Regions from separate parts of the Homo sapiens genome. Here region 2 is linked to region 1. Evidence: fine-mapped expression QTL. Tissue or cell type: tibial artery. Region 1 holds a variant in brackets; the other region holds the start of a gene. All regions are shown on one strand. Distances are between the middles of the regions.

Evidence for each region. PIP is the estimated chance that this variant, and not a neighbour inherited with it, causes the effect.
Region 2: it holds the start of UMAD1, and the variant in region 1 is fine-mapped to the expression of UMAD1 in tibial artery (GTEx, PIP above 0.99). The same link has a PIP of 0.9 or more in sigmoid colon, subcutaneous fat and whole blood.

Annotation. Positions count from the first base shown.
Region 1 is chr7:7,874,390-7,882,755 of GRCh38, reverse strand. It overlaps UMAD1 (UBAP1-MVB12-associated (UMA) domain containing 1), which reads right to left. Exons shown (of 4, transcript NM_001302348.2): 4 at 3,533-5,475. The coding sequence ends at 5,218. The region is part of intron 3 of LOC124901586 (a long non-coding RNA gene); the gene reads left to right. Among named protein-coding and RNA genes, the nearest start is that of GLCCI1-DT, 90 kb to the left of the region's middle. The variant C/T (reference allele first, on the strand shown) is at 4,810.
Region 2 is chr7:7,637,268-7,645,633 of GRCh38, reverse strand. It overlaps UMAD1 (UBAP1-MVB12-associated (UMA) domain containing 1), which reads right to left and starts at 4,882. Exons shown (of 4, transcript NM_001302348.2): 1 at 4,813-4,882. RPA3 (replication protein A3) reads left to right here. Exons shown (of 8, transcript NM_002947.5): 5 at 4,459-5,314; 6 at 6,490-6,564; 7 at 7,662-7,770. The coding sequence starts at 5,216. RefSeq lists enhancers at 4,422-4,591, 4,672-4,721, 4,762-4,961, 5,232-5,281, 5,652-5,701 and a silencer at 5,062-5,191.

The DNA.
Region 1 (8,366 bases):
ACTGCTTCTTAAAACTACCTCTTAATGTTGAAAATGAAATCCATCTTTCTGTAGAAGATTAAGGAGGTACAATTTTATTTTTGCTATTACTAAAAAAAAAAGTCCCACCTTTTATAGAGAAGAGCTCTTTGTATCATGAGTTGTCCTGATTATTTAAAGAGGAAATAATGACATTACAATCTCATTTCCATACCATTTGCTGAAGAATGACATTATTTATAAGATGCAACCATCTTTGGAATAAGGTAGGAAAAGGCCAGGTATCTATGAGGCCTCCACTTACAATGCAACACTGTTAGCCCTACAAAGGAAGGTCTGTGGTATATATAGTTATTTGTGGCAAGCTAAGGAGATACATGCCTGACATTAACAGGAAGATAAATTTTGAGGAAACCATAGAATATACTATCGTATCCAACATAAAATGGTATTCATCTGCACCATGTAAAATGTTCCAAATTTTATCGACTTTCATAAAAATGTAAATATGTCTCTTGGATAGCACTGATTAAGACTTGGAAAAAGATTGAAGATTCCTGAGTTCATACTAATATAAATAATTGATAAATAAATTGGGGAAAAGAGACAAATCTCTCATGCAGAAGAATTCCAAATAATTTATGTGATAGTTGCCTTTCAAGGAGGTGGAGTTTAATTACCCACTCGTTGAGTGTGGGCTGTGCTTTGTGATTTAATTCCAAAGAGTATAGAAAGGTTGGGGGGAATAACTTTTGCAGTGGAGAAACCTGAGAAGCACTACTTTGGCCAGGTATTCAAAGTCAGCATCATCAGTAATAAGTCATGTCTATAGCTTATACTACTCTCAATACGATATAATCTCACTGAAGGGGGTATCACCTTTTTAATATTTCTCCAAAAACCGATATCCCTAGTCTAACCATGTGAAAACATCAGATAAACCCCACTTGAGAAATATTCTACAAAATACTTAACCAGTACTCCTCAAAACTGTCAAGGTCATCAAAAATAAAAAGTCTGAGAAACTGTTGAAGCCAAGAGGTGCCTAAGGAGATATGACGACTAAATAAATGTAATGTGCTATCCCAGGTAGGCTGCTGAAGGAGAAAAAGGACATTAGAGGAAAACTATGAAATCTGAACGGGGTGTGCAGTGTAGTTAATTGCAATGTACCGGTGTTGATTCCTCGGTTGTGACAAATGTACTGCAGTTACGTGACATGTCAACAACAGGGGAAACTAAGTGAGGGGTATGTGGGAACTCTCTGTAGTACCTTCATAATTTTTCTGTGAATCTAAAACTATTCCAAAATAAAAAGTTTATTTAAATTTTTAAAAGACTGACATATTGTCACATCGACTGAAACAGAGTTCCCTGCGTCAATCAATACCTCTTTCTCTCTTTCCCACACACGCCTATCTGCCAAACCATATGGCAAAAAGAGTCCTTTTCCTGAAACATAAGAATACTTAATCCTTCAAGCCACTGTAGTATGAATGGAATTGGACTTATTCTGAAAGTTTTAGATTTCCCAATAATACCTAGGTCATGCCCTCAGTAATATGGGACAAATGCTCAAAAGAGAATGTCAATAAACCTGTATTTCCCAAAAACTTTAAAAGATAAACCATCCTTCAACTGCATTTCCAATAAACTTATATTTTGTGTGAGTTATTGACATAATTAATAAGATAACGCACTAATCTCTGAAAGAAACATATTCTTTGCTAGATTACTGAGGGCAGTGTTCACTTATTGATCAATTGTTACCATGGGAGGCACAGAGGTAGTCTGATGTACTACGGTTTCAGAACATGAGTGAGATTCTTTCCTTGCTTCTCCTTATCTGTCATTTAGAATTATGAGAAATGAAATCTCTGGGAATTTTAGAAGAATTTTTTCATACTGTTTTGAATTTACCATTTTTCTTTAAGAGAAGAAAAAAATAAGTGTTGACGTCAATGAATATTTACCTTAAAAAACTATTACGGATTTGATTTGCAATTGTTAATAAAAATTGTGGCTTTGTTAACATTTTAATGGTACAATTTTAAAAGTTCAGTTGATCAAAATTTAATTAGCCAGGATAATAAATTGGTCAGAATCGCCTCTCTCATTCTGTTTTTAGGAAAGAATGCAAATGTCTTTAAAGAAAGCTTGGGAAAAAAATACATGCAAGTTCTTGAATATATTTTAGGGCTAAAAATAAGATTCAAGGCTGGGCACAGTGGCTCATGCCTGTAATCCCAGCAATTTGGGAGGCCTAGGCGGGTGGATCATCTCAGGAGTTCGAGACCAGCCTAGTCAACATGGTGAAGCCCTGTATCTACTAAAAAAAAAAAAAAAAAAAATTAGGCATGGTGGCAGGCACCTGTAATCGCAGCTACTTGGGAGGCTGAGGCAAGAGAATCGCTTGAACCCAGGAGGAGGAGGTTGCAGTGAGCCGAGATCATGCCATTGCATTCCAGCCTGGGTGACAAGAGCAAAACTCTGTCACAAATAAATAAATAAGATTCAGTAAAATCACCTGCACATTCCATATCTATAGTACTTTGCAACAATAACATATATTAGGAAAAAGACTGTAATAACGAGAAAAAGAAAAAAATGTTCACTATGGAATTCTTAGTTAAGGCAGAACAGTCAACTAACATATTTTAGGAATATTTCTCATAGTAAGGTATTTAATATGGAAAAAAATAACTGGGAAGGAGGGGGATCTACAGTTAACGTAGGTAGCTGTTTTATTTATGTTACTCTTCAAGAAGTTCAATTAATATGTATTTTGCATTTCATTATAGTATTGTGTGTGTATGGTCAATAACGAGAATTATAACAATCCCTTTCCCAGAATACCGATGATGTGCAAGGCTTTAGGCTGCCAGGCATTTGACATACACCACCTATAACTTAACACAACGCTACAAGTTATGAACAATTAGTGTTTCACAATTGAGAGAACTGAGGGCACCAGAAGTTAGGGGACTGATTGAAAGCCCCACAGCTTATAAAGGAGGGAGCCATTACAAACTCTGTCTGGCTGCCTCAATTGCCTGAACTCTCTCCCACCATATCATACAGCTTTGTTATCATATATTATAATTACTAACACTATTAAAGTAGGCATTTATTTATCACTAAGTGATTTAAGTCATTTAGTCTTTCTAGGCTTCAATTTTATCTTGGGTAAAATGAAGTTGACGTATTGATTTCTAATGTTTCATAGAAATATTAATTTATATACAGAATAAAAAATTAAATGGTAATTTTCACAATATTTTTGTTTAAAGAAGAAGATCATTAACATTGGCCCTTACTAAATGTTGTGATGATGGTATCAATCTAGAAATGCTCATGTCATCTCTCTCAAATCCCTCCAGTCCTGTTAAGCCAGGACTAGGGATCTTACCATTTTTAATGTTATTCCTTAAAACTTACATGTAAGAGGAAATCGTATATTTTTCCCAGCACTATACAAACTATATACTTAAACTTTTTGGCTCCTAAAGAATTAACAACTTGCATTCAGATATAAATAATGCAATCAAACCCATTTTTCTGGATCTGAAAATAATCAAAAATTTTATTTTAATTCACATTTATTTAAATATAACATTTTTTATAGACACATGAAGGTACTTATGAACATTTATAACATGGTAGGCACAAATATAGATGAAATGTTTAGGTATTTTCGACAAAATTTCACACAAAATTAGACAAACTGACTATGTGCTTGCATTTAATTTCAAGGGTACATTAACACAGATATTTGAAAAGGATGTTCTTTTACAAAACTACTACAAAATGTTCACGTTTGCATCAGTAATAAGTCATATTTCCTAGACTGATGCTTTGTAAGAACTATGTAAAGATCTAATTTAATCATTAACACCATATGGTAACATTATATGTAAATGAAGCATATTTTTGTCAATAGAAATGTTCCTCTAACTTTTAAATAACATAGCATTTGTATTAAAACCATGCCACATTTATTAAACAAACATGCATAATACTTTAAAACTGGAATAATTCATGTACCTTTATGCACAGTGTTTAGTTTCACTATGGCACTCTATCTTTGTGAAAAAATATACTTAAAACTTGGCACAGAGTTAACAAATCATATTGCTGGTAATCAAAATAAATGTGATTTCAATTTCCCATGACATAGAAAATTCTCTATCACAATTTACCTCTTCCCTTTACAGTTTATTGACCAATGGCAGTTCTGTTTTCATTAAAGTAAGTAATGGATATTCAAGAACTAAAAGTCATATCTAGGTGTTCTGCCTATACTCTAATTGGAAATGAGTTGATTTCAGTTTTTCCAGCAGTAAAACATTTCCATCTCTATTGTGGCCAACAAATTTCTAAATAAGGGTGTTATCAGCAATAATATGTATCATCATGAGATGTTTTTCTTCAGGAGGCAGAGGGGTTGAAAGGAAATGTGGATCTCTTCATAAACTGGGAACATATGTGGTAAGGAGAGCAAATGGCAACCGAGGCAGAAGCAGGGAAAGTTCTTTGGAAAGCTGGTCAGAGAGCACACTGAAGTAGCAAAAAGGCAGAGAACAAAGGTGGGAACACAACGATTATTCACGATGGAAAGGGCTGCCATGGGTTTCAGAAAACCGAAATGGGCCACTCCAGAAAGAGCACGCAGAGCAGGTCTAGCATCCTTGTATCAGCAAACTAGCACTGCTGTTTAGGACAAGTTTTAAATTTCCACATCAATGCATCTGAAGAAATTAAGCTAACTGGCAACTTTTTTTCTGAATTCATTCATAAACACTGTGGAAGAAAAAAATGCAGGAATAACAC[C/T]AATTCAACTTCCTACAAACCAGAGAGGAGACTTCACACCCACTTCTTGCTCAGACTTCGGAGCTGTAGTGACTGAAAAATGCCACAATTCTTTTTCACAGTTCTTCTAAGATAAATTTGAGGTGTTATATTTTGAGAGACCATCTGAAGGAATCGAGTCCTTTCCTAAAACCTTCATAGCCTAATTTGTATATTTATTATATGGGAGAAAGGAAGTAGAACTTAAGTTCAATTTGTATACAAATGTACCTTTTTCTTAAAAATAGAGTAGTGAACATAATGCTATTTTCTTTGCTTTATGATCCTTGCTGAGGACCTTAAACAGTGAAACGGCAAAGAACATCAAACAGGTTAGATAAAATAGGCGAACATATTTTAAAGCTGTTAAGGTGCAAACAGACATAAAGGTTATGAATCACAGAGCACTGAATTTTCAAGAGTGAAATCATACCAAAACCGTGATAAGTTTTCGCTGCCATCATAGGAGAGTAAGTGGTCGGGAAGGTCAGTGATGGTGCCCTGTACTGCCAGCACATGCGGGGCCAGGGTGAACGGCACATCGCTCAGGAGCTCGGCCATTAATGAGCTGTTCTCCAGAGTCTGGCCTGCCTTATTTTCCATCTCAGGGTCTGATACAGTCACACTGGATGAATTTTCTTTGTTGGTCTAAAAATACATACATTTAAAACATTTAGGCCTTGTGAACTTTGAGGTTGAATAACGGTAAATGTGGCATTAATACATCAAAATGATTGAGCAATGTGGGCTATATAAATATTCCCAGATTTGAACGCAGCTCTTTACTTTACTTTAGAATTACATTCATCCAAATCTCTGTTAGGCTTTAAAATGAATCCTAAACTTTAACTCAGACTGACCACCCACAGACCCCTTAAACACAAACTGGCCTTCTTGTTATTTCCCTTGCTCAGATAATGTCTGCAAATTCTGTCTCCGCTTTTCCAAATCCTATGTACGTTTTCAGGCTCTGCTAAATTCTCAGCTGCCCTATAAAATCTTGTATCAATGGAGTACAAAGTGATCTTGCCTATTTCAGAATGCTTATGGGGCAAATTGCCTAAGATGTTATTTGGTGTTGCCTATATGTGTCCTTGCAAATTGCTGTTCCATATGCAAATATATCTTATCTCCAACTAGACTATAGGGTCCTTGAAGGCAAGCAGTCTATCTGGCATATCTTTGTATTTTCAACCTTGCACACTTTACTATTTGACAGTAATATATATGTACTCATAATTTATCTCTAATGTATACCATGAGTACTGATTGTCTGATTGTCATTGGAACTAACCTGTTATGTCATAAAAGTTACGCAATTTTTTAAAAAAGGATATATCTTGTTCAATTTCTTTACAATTAATATGTCTTGCAAATCACCTAAATATCAATCAATAGAAGAATGGATAATAAACTGAAATTTATTTACAGCAATGAAGATGAATGGCCTGCCACTACAAGCACCTGGAACCTAACTCAAACCAGCCTGGGCAAAAAAATGACTCCCCCCTTGACCCTCAATCTCAGGCAGAATGAAACTCCCAAGTCTTTACAGAGGCCTACTAGCTCCTTCGCCATCTGGCTCCAGGTGTGCTTCTGCCCTCATCTCCAGCTCGTGTGCCCTGGCCTATTCCTCTTCAATCCCACTGTCTCCTTGCTAGTGCTCCTTGCAAGTGCTTGCTCGTGCACACCGAGCCTGCTTCTGCCTCAGGGCCTTTGCTTTCCATTCCCTCAGACCAGGACGCTCTTCTCCCAGACATACACAGGGCTACTTCCCTTATCTCCTTCCAAGCGCTAGCCCAGATGCCATCTCAATGAGGCCTTTTCTCACTTATATAAAACTTACTTTTACGTGGTTTTTGTTTGTTATTTTTTTGAGACAGAGTCTCGCTCTGTCACCCAGGCTGGGGCGCAGTGCGTGATCCTGGCTCACTGTATCCTCCCTGTCTCAGCCTCCCAAGTAGCTAGGACTATAGGAGCATGCCACCATGCTTGGCTAATTTTTGTATTTTTTTGTACAGACAGGATTTCACTATGTTGCCCAAGCTGGTTTTGAACTCCTGGACTCAAGCGATCTGCCTGCCTCCCAAAATGCTGGGATTACAGGCATGAGCCACTGCACCCAGCCAAGAAGCTTTTGTAGCTCATGTTCACTGCTGTATTCCACATGCCTAGATCAGTGCCTACTGCTCAATAAAGATTTATTGGGCTTTTTGTGGTTGGCAGGCTATTAATTACTGCCTCAATTTCACAACTTGTTATTGGTCTATTCAGGGATTCGACTTCTTCCTGCTTTAGTGTTGGAAGGGTGTATGTGTCCAGGAATTTATCCATTTCTTCTAGATTTTCTAGCTTATTTGCATAGAGGTGTTTATAGTATTCTCTGATGGTAGTTTGTATTTCTGTGGGATCAGTGGTGATATCCTCTTTATCATTTTTTATTGTGTCTATTTGATTCTTCTCTCTTTTCATCTTTACTAGTCTGGTTAATGGTCCATCTATTTTGTTAATCTTTCAAAAAACCAGCTCCTGGATTCATTGATTTTTTTGAAGGGTTTTTCATGTCTCTATCTCCTTCGCTTCTGCTCTGATCTTAGTTATTTCTTGCCTTCTGCTAGCTTATGAATTTGTTTGCTCTTGCTTCTCTAGTTCTTTTAATTGTTATGTTAGATGTCGATTTTAGATCTTTCCTGCTTTCTCCCGTGGGCATTTAGTGCTATAAATTTCCCTCTACACACTGCTTTAGCTGTGTCCCAGAGATTCTGGTACGTTGTGTCTTTGGTTATAAATGCTAATGGTTATAAATGCTGACAAATTCTTAGACTGTAAGTCTAAAGGAGAAGAATAATTTTCTGGGCCGGGCACGGTGGCTCACGCCTGTAATCCCAGCACTTTGGGAGGTTAAGGTGGGCAGATCACCTGAGGTCGGGAGTTCGAGACCAGCCTGACCAACATGGAGAAACCCCGTCTGTACTAAAAATACAAAATACTTCATAAGGGTGTAACTTGCTAAATTTTTACAAACTGAATACACATGAGCAACCAGCGCCCAGATCAGGAAATAGAAAAGACCAGCCCCCAGAAGCCCTCCTGGTGTTCTCTTGCAGTCACAATCAACCCCCGTCCTGTCAATCACTATCCTTATTTCTAACAACACAGAATTGGTTTTACCTGGTTTTGTTTTTTAATTAATTAATTTATTTATGTATTATTTTGAGACAGAGTTTTGCTCTTGTCACCCAGGCTGGAATGTCCAGCTACTTTTTGTATTTTTAGTAGAAACAGGGTTTCACCATGTTGGCTAGGCTGGTCTCGAACTCTTGAGCTCAGGTGATCCACCCTCCTCAGCCTCCCAAAGTGCTGGGATTACAGGCGTGAGCCACTGTGCCCGGCCTGATTTTGTATTTTAAATGAATGCAATCATACAGTATGAACTCTTGCTTCTGGCTTCTTTTACTCAACATTATGTGGATGAGATTCATCTAAATTGTTGCATGTTAGATGAAAAAAATCTTGAAGAACATATTGTTGGAAAGGTG
Region 2 (8,366 bases), 240 kb after region 1:
TCAAACTAGGAATAGAAGGAAAATTCCTTAATCTAATAAACAGAAATTCAAGTTGGGAAGGACTTCGGGGAATACTCCTTAAAGGAAGCTGAATGCGGGTCCACTTCTCTGCCACATAGAACGTGGATTTACTTGATAGCTGAAGCTCCATCACTTACCTGGCCTATGAGATAACCATAAATATGGAACTAGATATTGAATGTAGAACTACAGAAAGACAGAAAGAACCTGGGGCCCTGAGTCTTAGTGCACTACCACATAAGTACTAAGTTGCACAGCTGTGGACTTCTTTCACATGTGAGAATAAGCGTTTGTGCATTAAAGATACTTTTGTTTATGCAGCTAAACCCCATCTTGACTTAAACACTATTTCTATTCAAAATGGTACTGAAGGCTCTATCCTAGGCAAAAGGTAAGAAAGATAAATAAAATATGTAAGAATTCTTAAGAAACAAAACTATAATTATTCAAATATGAATAGAAAATTCCAAAAAAAACTGATAGAAAATTCTTAAAATGGCATTTCTATATACCAAAACAATCAGTTAAAATCTTTAATTTAAAAAATGATACCATTCATAATAGCAACAAAAACAAGGTATCTAGGAATAAATCTAAGCTAAAAGTCAAAACTTTTATGTAGAAAAGTATGAGACCTTTTGGAAAGATTTTAAGAGGACCAAAATGGCTCAAGGATAGTAAGAGTTGACATTCAGGTGTTACTTTTCCTGAAATACATCCAAGGATACAGTGCAATTTTGATCAAAATTCCAACACAGTTTTTCCTGGAAATTCATAAGCTACATTCTATACAGAAGAGCAAAGAGACAAAAATAACCAAGACATTCCCGAGAACACAGCCCCAGACATCAAAAGTTATGATAAGCTACACTATTAAAGAAAATAGGTAGTGGTTCAGGGATAGAAAAATAGATCCATAGAATAGAATTGACTCCACACATATCTGTAAACTTAAGGTGACAAGTGAAGGTGGCAAAAAGGTGATACAGTCAAATCACATTAGGACAACTGAAATTAAAACAAAACAGAGATTGGAGACTTATCTGACAACATACATGAAGAGTGAATTCTAGATGACGGACTATTAAATATGAAAGGCAAAACTCTAAACATTTTAGGAAAAATAGAATACCTTTAAGAGTACGATGTATCAAAGAATTCATAAATGAGATTTTAATGGACTTTTCTCCTACATTAAACTTAAGGGGGAAAATGTTTAACTATATTAAAAGAGGTCTTCCTAATAAAAAAAAAAAAAGGATGGAATGAAGGAAGGAAACGGAAAGATAGGCCAAAAACAGACAACACTTGTACCATTACAATATCTCACTAATAAAAAGCTCTTAAAAGTCAGTAAGAAAAAGAAAAATCAAGGAAAAAAAGATAAACATAAATAACCAATAAAAATCTGAAAAAATGTTCAAACTTTTCAGTAATCAGGGAGTGCAAATTAGGGTCACGACAAAAAAACACTTCATATCCATCAAATTGGGGGAAAAAACTCCAAGAGTTGCCAAGAATATACAATAACTGTAAACTGTCTTATACTCCAGGTAAGAGAGTAAACTGGTACCACCATTTGGGGAAATCATTTTTTTACTAGTGGCAGAGATCCAAGTTACCCCAAGTTACCGGTGGCCTATCCTCACGGGTCAGTAGCAACTTCAGTCCTTGCCTCCTCAGACGAAAAAATTTGACTGAGGGGCATAAAGCAGAAACAGAGACCCAGGCAAGTTCCAGAGCAGGAATGGAAGTTTACTTTAAAAGGCCTTAAAACAGGAAGAAAGGAAGGTGTGCTTGTTAGAGACCCAAGCGGGAATGTGAAGGTTAAAGAGAGTAGGTCAAGTGTCCGATTTAACCGTTGATCCTTTTTTTTTCGTTTGTTTGTTTTTTTTTTTTTTGAGAGGGAGTCTCGCTCTGTGGCCCAGGTTGGAGTGAAGTGGCGCGATCTCGGCTCACTGCAAGCTCCGCCTCTCGGGTTCACGCCATTCTCCTGCCTCAGCCTCCCGAGTAGCTGGGACTACAGGCCCCCGCCATCGCGCCTGGATACTTTTTTGTATATTTAGTAGAGACAGGGTTTCACCATGTTGACCAGGGTGGTCTTGAACTTCTGATCTGAGGTGATCCACCCGCTTCAGCCTCCCAAAGTGCTGGGATTACAGGCGTGAGCCACCGCGCCCGGCCCTGATCCTAGGACTTTTACAAGCTTGTCTATTTCCCATGATTCTTTCCTTAGGATAGGCTGCCGGCAGGCACAGAGCCCTCCTTAGCCTTGGGAAGTGTTTTTAGGGAGTTACATGCACGCCCATCTGAGGCTTCCTTCCTTTTTCCGGTGGAGTGTACCTGGAAGATCATACTTTACCATTTTTGTCTCTTAATATGCATGCCCAGGAAGCTGTTTCTCCCTCGGGTCTACATTCAATTAACATTTTGATAACAGGTGTGGACCATCAGGAAATGGCCTCTCCCTGGCGCTGCAGAATTATCATTTTTAGAGAAGCAAATTCGGTAATTGCCAAACCATCCCCCAACATTTCTAGTGGGTTGGGGGAGAGCCCACTACTGTCCCACTCATGCCTACCTGTAACAGAAAAAAAAATATGATCTACGTACATTCGTCAACATAGATGAATCTCAAAAACAAACAAAAGAAGTCAGAAGATACATACGTTTCTGTTTATATAAAGGTCAAAGACTGGCAATATTAAACAACATACCATTTAGCAACGCCTGCATGTGTGATAAAACCACCTAGAAAAGCTTAGGAAGCTTAACACAAATTTCAAGATAGTGTTTACTTATGGCTGTAGCAAGGAGGGCTTCATTGGGGAAGTGCAAACTGGTAAAATTTACTGGTAACTGGTAAAGTTCCATTTCTTCAGCTGAATGACAGGCCCCATGGATTCATTTCATTTCTCTCAAAACTATGCAAATCGGCTAGCTATACTTTTTTCTGTACATCATGTATTTTATAATATTTTAAGTGACTCAAAAATACACGAAAAAGCTGTTTTAAATTATCTTCCTGCTCATCTCCCTGTTTTAAAAGAAAGCCTTTGCTTAAAAGTGGTCTTTCTAACTGCAGGTAAACAACGACATTAACATCTGGTACTCACAGGAGTGCTCTTTAAAAAAAAAAAAAATCACTATTACAGGGTACGCACCAAGGCTCACACCTGTAATTCCAGTACTTTGGGAGGGAGACGGGGGAGGGAGGGATCGCCTGAGCCCAGGAGTTTGAGATAAGCCTGGTCAACATGGCGAGGCCCCATCTGAACAAAAAAAAACAAACAACAAAAAAAAAATCTTTATTAGCTGGGTGTGGTGGTATGTGCTTATAGTCCCAGCTACTTGGCAGGCTGAGGTGAGAGGATCGCTTAAGCCTACGAGTTAAAGGCTGCAGTGAGCTATGTGCATGCTACTGCACTCCAGTCTGGGTGACAGAGAGAGATCTTGCCTCAAAAAAAAATGCTATTAAAGACATTGATGTGTGTACTCTCCCCTATATAATGCACATCAACTTGCTTTGCAAAACAATGCTAAAGTACAAAAGACTTAAAGCTGTAATATAAAATAGACTTTACTGACTTGCACCAATACAACCACAACTTTTTTATACACCACTGACACACATTCTACATCTGTTTAATGAAATCCTTTAAAGTACCGTTAGTGAGTAAAACTAAGACAAACCTATTAAGTGCTAAGGAAACACTAAGGGAGACTATCATTTAATTATCGTACATGAGATTCCAATCTTAAATTGCCACGTGAAGTCTCAAATCGGATCTTTTTTGCTTAAGGGAATTTGAACGATGACAATTCTGTAGCTTTGGGCCAATTCACAGACTCAGTTTCCACAACGTTATAATACCCAATTAAAACTTCTGTCCAATTTCCACCGTACCGTTTGAAGGTATTTTTATGTGCACTCATTCTAGAATACTCCTGGCAAGGCCGCCGGCTTCGGGTCACAAGATGAGCCAGGGACAGATTGGAGACTACCCCCAAATCTCCCAGGAATCGGTTATCTTCCAGACCTCCAGATCGCCCTCCAGAGTCTCGCAGTGTGGAGGGCAACGACAGAAAGACTGCTGAGGGGGTTTAAACTGTTGAGTCAAACATATGGCCAAAAGTCAGAGTCAACTGGGACCTTGCAAATCATTCCGCCTAACCCTTCGTTTTGCAGATGGGGAAAACACGCCTCAGAAGGGAGAACCCTAGCTCGGGGAACCCTAGCTCGGGGTCTAACAACGATTTAAGCTTGTCTCCCCTAGTACTGGCCAGTGGTTCTTCCCCGTTACCCATCCTTAAGTGCTTCTATTGGCTGCCAACACGGAGGGGTTAGCGGGGTGAAAGAACCGGCGCCTCCGCAGTGTGGCCAGGTTGGGCTAAAAAACGTCTTAGAAGTAATCGGATCAATCTCTCTTCTTACAGGTGGAGAAAGTGGAGAAAGTAGAGTGACGCAGCTAAGGGAGTAAATCGACCCTCAGCCAACAAGTGGCAAAAGCCTGAAGAAAGTGATCAAGATCACTGATGACCCCGCTGCCCATCTCCAAGGGGGCGGGTATCACAACCCCGACGCCACACCACGTATCATTCCGCAAAACTCCCGCGCCTCCCACGCAGAACTGGCAAGAGGGAAGGCGAGACAGCAGTGAACAGCTGGTACGCAGCACCCACAGCACCGCGGCAGCAGCTAGTGCCGACTCCCGCCTAGCTCTTTTGACTCTGTTCGCGGGAAGAATGGGGAAACAGTAAGGTTGCGGCGCCTCCCGCGAGACGAGGTACCTGAGGCTGGCCCCGCAGTCCCCCGCCGCACCAGCACCGGAGCTTCACACCCCACTTCCGGGGTCAAGTCACCGCCGGGAATCCTGTGATCGCAGAAAGGTAGTCTCAGGTTCCGCCCCTATCCAAGTCCCGCCTCCACTGCCTCTCGCCCTGTATCTGTCAACTTCCGGGACGCCGCGCGTCACTAAGCAGCCAATCTCCACTTCCGGACTCATCCAGCCCCTTCTCCACCCCTTTCAGAGACAGCGCGATTGCGATTTAGGTTTCCGCGCATTTAATTGGCGAAGCTGGAGCGCTAGTCTTCGCTGATTGGTGCCGAGAAATCTGCCCCATAGACACCCGCGGGGCGCACAGTTTCAGTCGTCCGTGGGTTTCCCGCCAGCCGCAGTCTTGGACCATAATCATGGTGGACATGATGGACTTGCCCAGGTCGCGCATCAACGCCGGCATGCTAGCTCAATTCATCGACAAGCCTGTCTGCTTCGTAGGGAGGCTGGAAAAGGTGTGCGGGTTCGCAATCATGGGCTCCCAAGTCCGTAGCTGGAGGGAGGGACCCCGCCTGGATAACGGGGGATGAAAAAGGACGGAAAGCCTCCGATCACTGCGCCCCCGACTCCTTTATTTTGCACAAGGAACTTTTTGGAAATTCTTTAGCCGTTGTAGCCCCATTTTGGCGCTCTTTTATGGCACGGAAACAAAGTGTTTTCAAATGCTGAGTTCTAAATTCCAGTGCCCGTCGCCTCCGTTCTAGCCGTGCTTACGTAAGGGAAATTATAAACACCACTCCCACATCTACCTTCAGATTTCTTAGTTTACTCAGACGTGACGGACGCAGACAAAACTAATCTGCTGGTTTCCTTCTCTTCTGAAATTACTTATTTTTGCAAACCTCGTTTCCTCGTTGTGATCGCTTCTCTGTAAAACATGCCTTGGTTGTCCGCTTTGGGTCCCGTAGTAACGAGTTATTTAACCCCAGTATTAAAGTGAAGTTCCCTCATTCTACAGGCGAGAAACAGGCCCAAAGTCTTGGAATCAGTGACCTGAAAAGCTGAGGAAAAGAAAACTATTATATAAAGACTTATTTAGTAGCTCATTTCATCCACACATCCTCTTCCTTAAATGAGTGTTGCTCTGACTTCCCAAGTAGGGAAACTGAGTAGGAGTGGTAGGTGGTTGACTAAAATGCTCAGAAACTCGGCAAATGGCAAAGCTGGCATTCAAACGCAATCTGACAGCGCTCTTTACAGCTGCTTCCCAGGAGTAGGACCCAGATATTCTAGCAACCAGTTCTCCTTTTACTTCATCATGCCTGTTTTTTAAAACATACCCTCCGTGGGATATGTACTGTCTAAATCATGAGTGCCAGCAGATTTCACTTTTAGGGTGGGCATCCTTTAATTTGTTATCAGAATAGGGTTGCCATATTTAGCAAATACAGAACCTACTTAACACTACAAAAAAAATCCTTGTTTATCTGAAATTCAGAAATTAACTGTGTGTTCCATGAACAGATTTGATAACATAAGATTATAATTTGATCCAATAAGTTGAATAAACTGAATGAATAAACTGTTCAAGAAACAGTTGATTTGTGCTCAACTAAGGATCAATGTACTCATCTTTAGTCAAACTTTGTTGTTGTTTTAGTGAGATTTTAATTATATGTTTCGTTTTTAGATTCATCCCACCGGAAAAATGTTTATTCTTTCAGATGGAGAAGGAAAAAATGGAACCATCGAGTTGATGGAACCCGTATGTTTAAGTGTTAATAAGTCTCTTATATATTATAGTTAATTCTTCATCTTGATTTGGTTTGTTGCCGATGTTTCTAATTTTTGCAATGGATTTAAAAAGGATGAGCTGGTAAAACGTCCCTGGCTGTAAAATTTAATTCTTGTACTATTCTCTCATTATATTTCCTTTTACATTTTTAACCAATGATTTTTTGGGCGTCATGATTTTTGAACATATCCCATAAATGTTGGATAACAATTCTCATTCCTTATGAAAGACCATAAAATCACATAAGAAAAATTTACGTTGCTTTTTTCTTCCTCAAGAGGTTTTTTGTTTCGTTTTTGTTTTTTTGTTTTGAGACAGGGTCTCACTCTGTTACCCCGGGTGGAATGCAGTGGCACCATCATGGCGCACTGCAGCCTTAGCCTCCCAAGATCAAGTTGCTCCCATGTCAGCCTCCCCAGTAGCTGGGACTACAGGCATGCTTAACCATGCCTGGCTAATTTTTGTTTTGTTTTGTTTTGTTTTGTTTTGTTTTGTTTTTTGTAAAGATGGCATCTCCCTATGTTCCTCAGGCTGGTCTTGAACTCTCGGTCTCAAGCAATCCTCCTGCCTCGACCAGCCCCTCAAGAGTTTTCGATTTTATTTTATTTTCTATTTTTGTTCATATATTTCCAGTTTTTACTTATTTATGTTTGCATTTTATGTTTAACATACTTAAAACTTTTTTTGGTATTTTGTGAAGACAAATCCATATGCTGTTTGGTTAATGTATACAGAACACATTGTGAAATACAGATTATAGAAGATTCCTCTCATAGGATATTACTGCTTATAGAAATGCTGGACGTTTTCAATAGTGATTTTGTCTTTAACTTGAATTGTAGCTTTGGACTTGAAGCTACTGCTAAAGGTAGCAGGAATTTTAACATGCTGACAGTTAAGTACTCAAACATTTGTTAACAAGTTACATTTTAACTTTTACACTGGTAATTCTTAAAATTACTTTGTTACTTGAAGTGATAGATTAGTAACCTGTATAACAGTTTTCCAAAATAATTGTCAACTGAAAATGTGATATCACCAAATCGATGTCTTGTTCTGTGTCTTAGCTTGATGAAGAAATCTCTGGAATTGTGGAAGTGGTTGGAAGAGTAACCGCCAAGGCCACCATCTTGTGTACATCTTATGTCCAGTTTAAAGAAGATAGCCATCCTTTTGGTAAATAAAGCATTCTAGTATTGACTGGTTTTATGTAATTACATAACATACAGTTTTATATAACTGTATGTAATTACATAACATACAGTTTTATATAACTGTATGTAATTACATAACATACAGTTTTATATAACTGTATGTAATTACATAACATACAGTTTTATATAACTGTATGTAATTACATAACATACAGTTTTATATAACTATGTTTTAACATACATTTTGTATTACATACAAAATTGTATGTATTACATACAATTACATAACATAAACATACAGGAAAACAGTTTTATTTTTAGTTTGATATATATTGGTCTAGAGTTTTAGTACTGCCACATTTTCAATTTCTATAGAATTTTGTGATCGTAAAGGCAAATGGGGGTACATTTTGTTTTGGCCTGCTTTTAAGTAGTGCTTATATATGTAAGAAACTCAGTAAAGATTAATTAATGTTTGTTGAAAGATAATTTTTTTAAATATAACAAAAATAGTATTAGTTTTTTTGTTGTAATATCTGAATTGAAGGAATTGAATAATGCATAACACCCAAAACACTACCAGGCAGAAACTGCCTGTATAATGAACATCAAAATGGA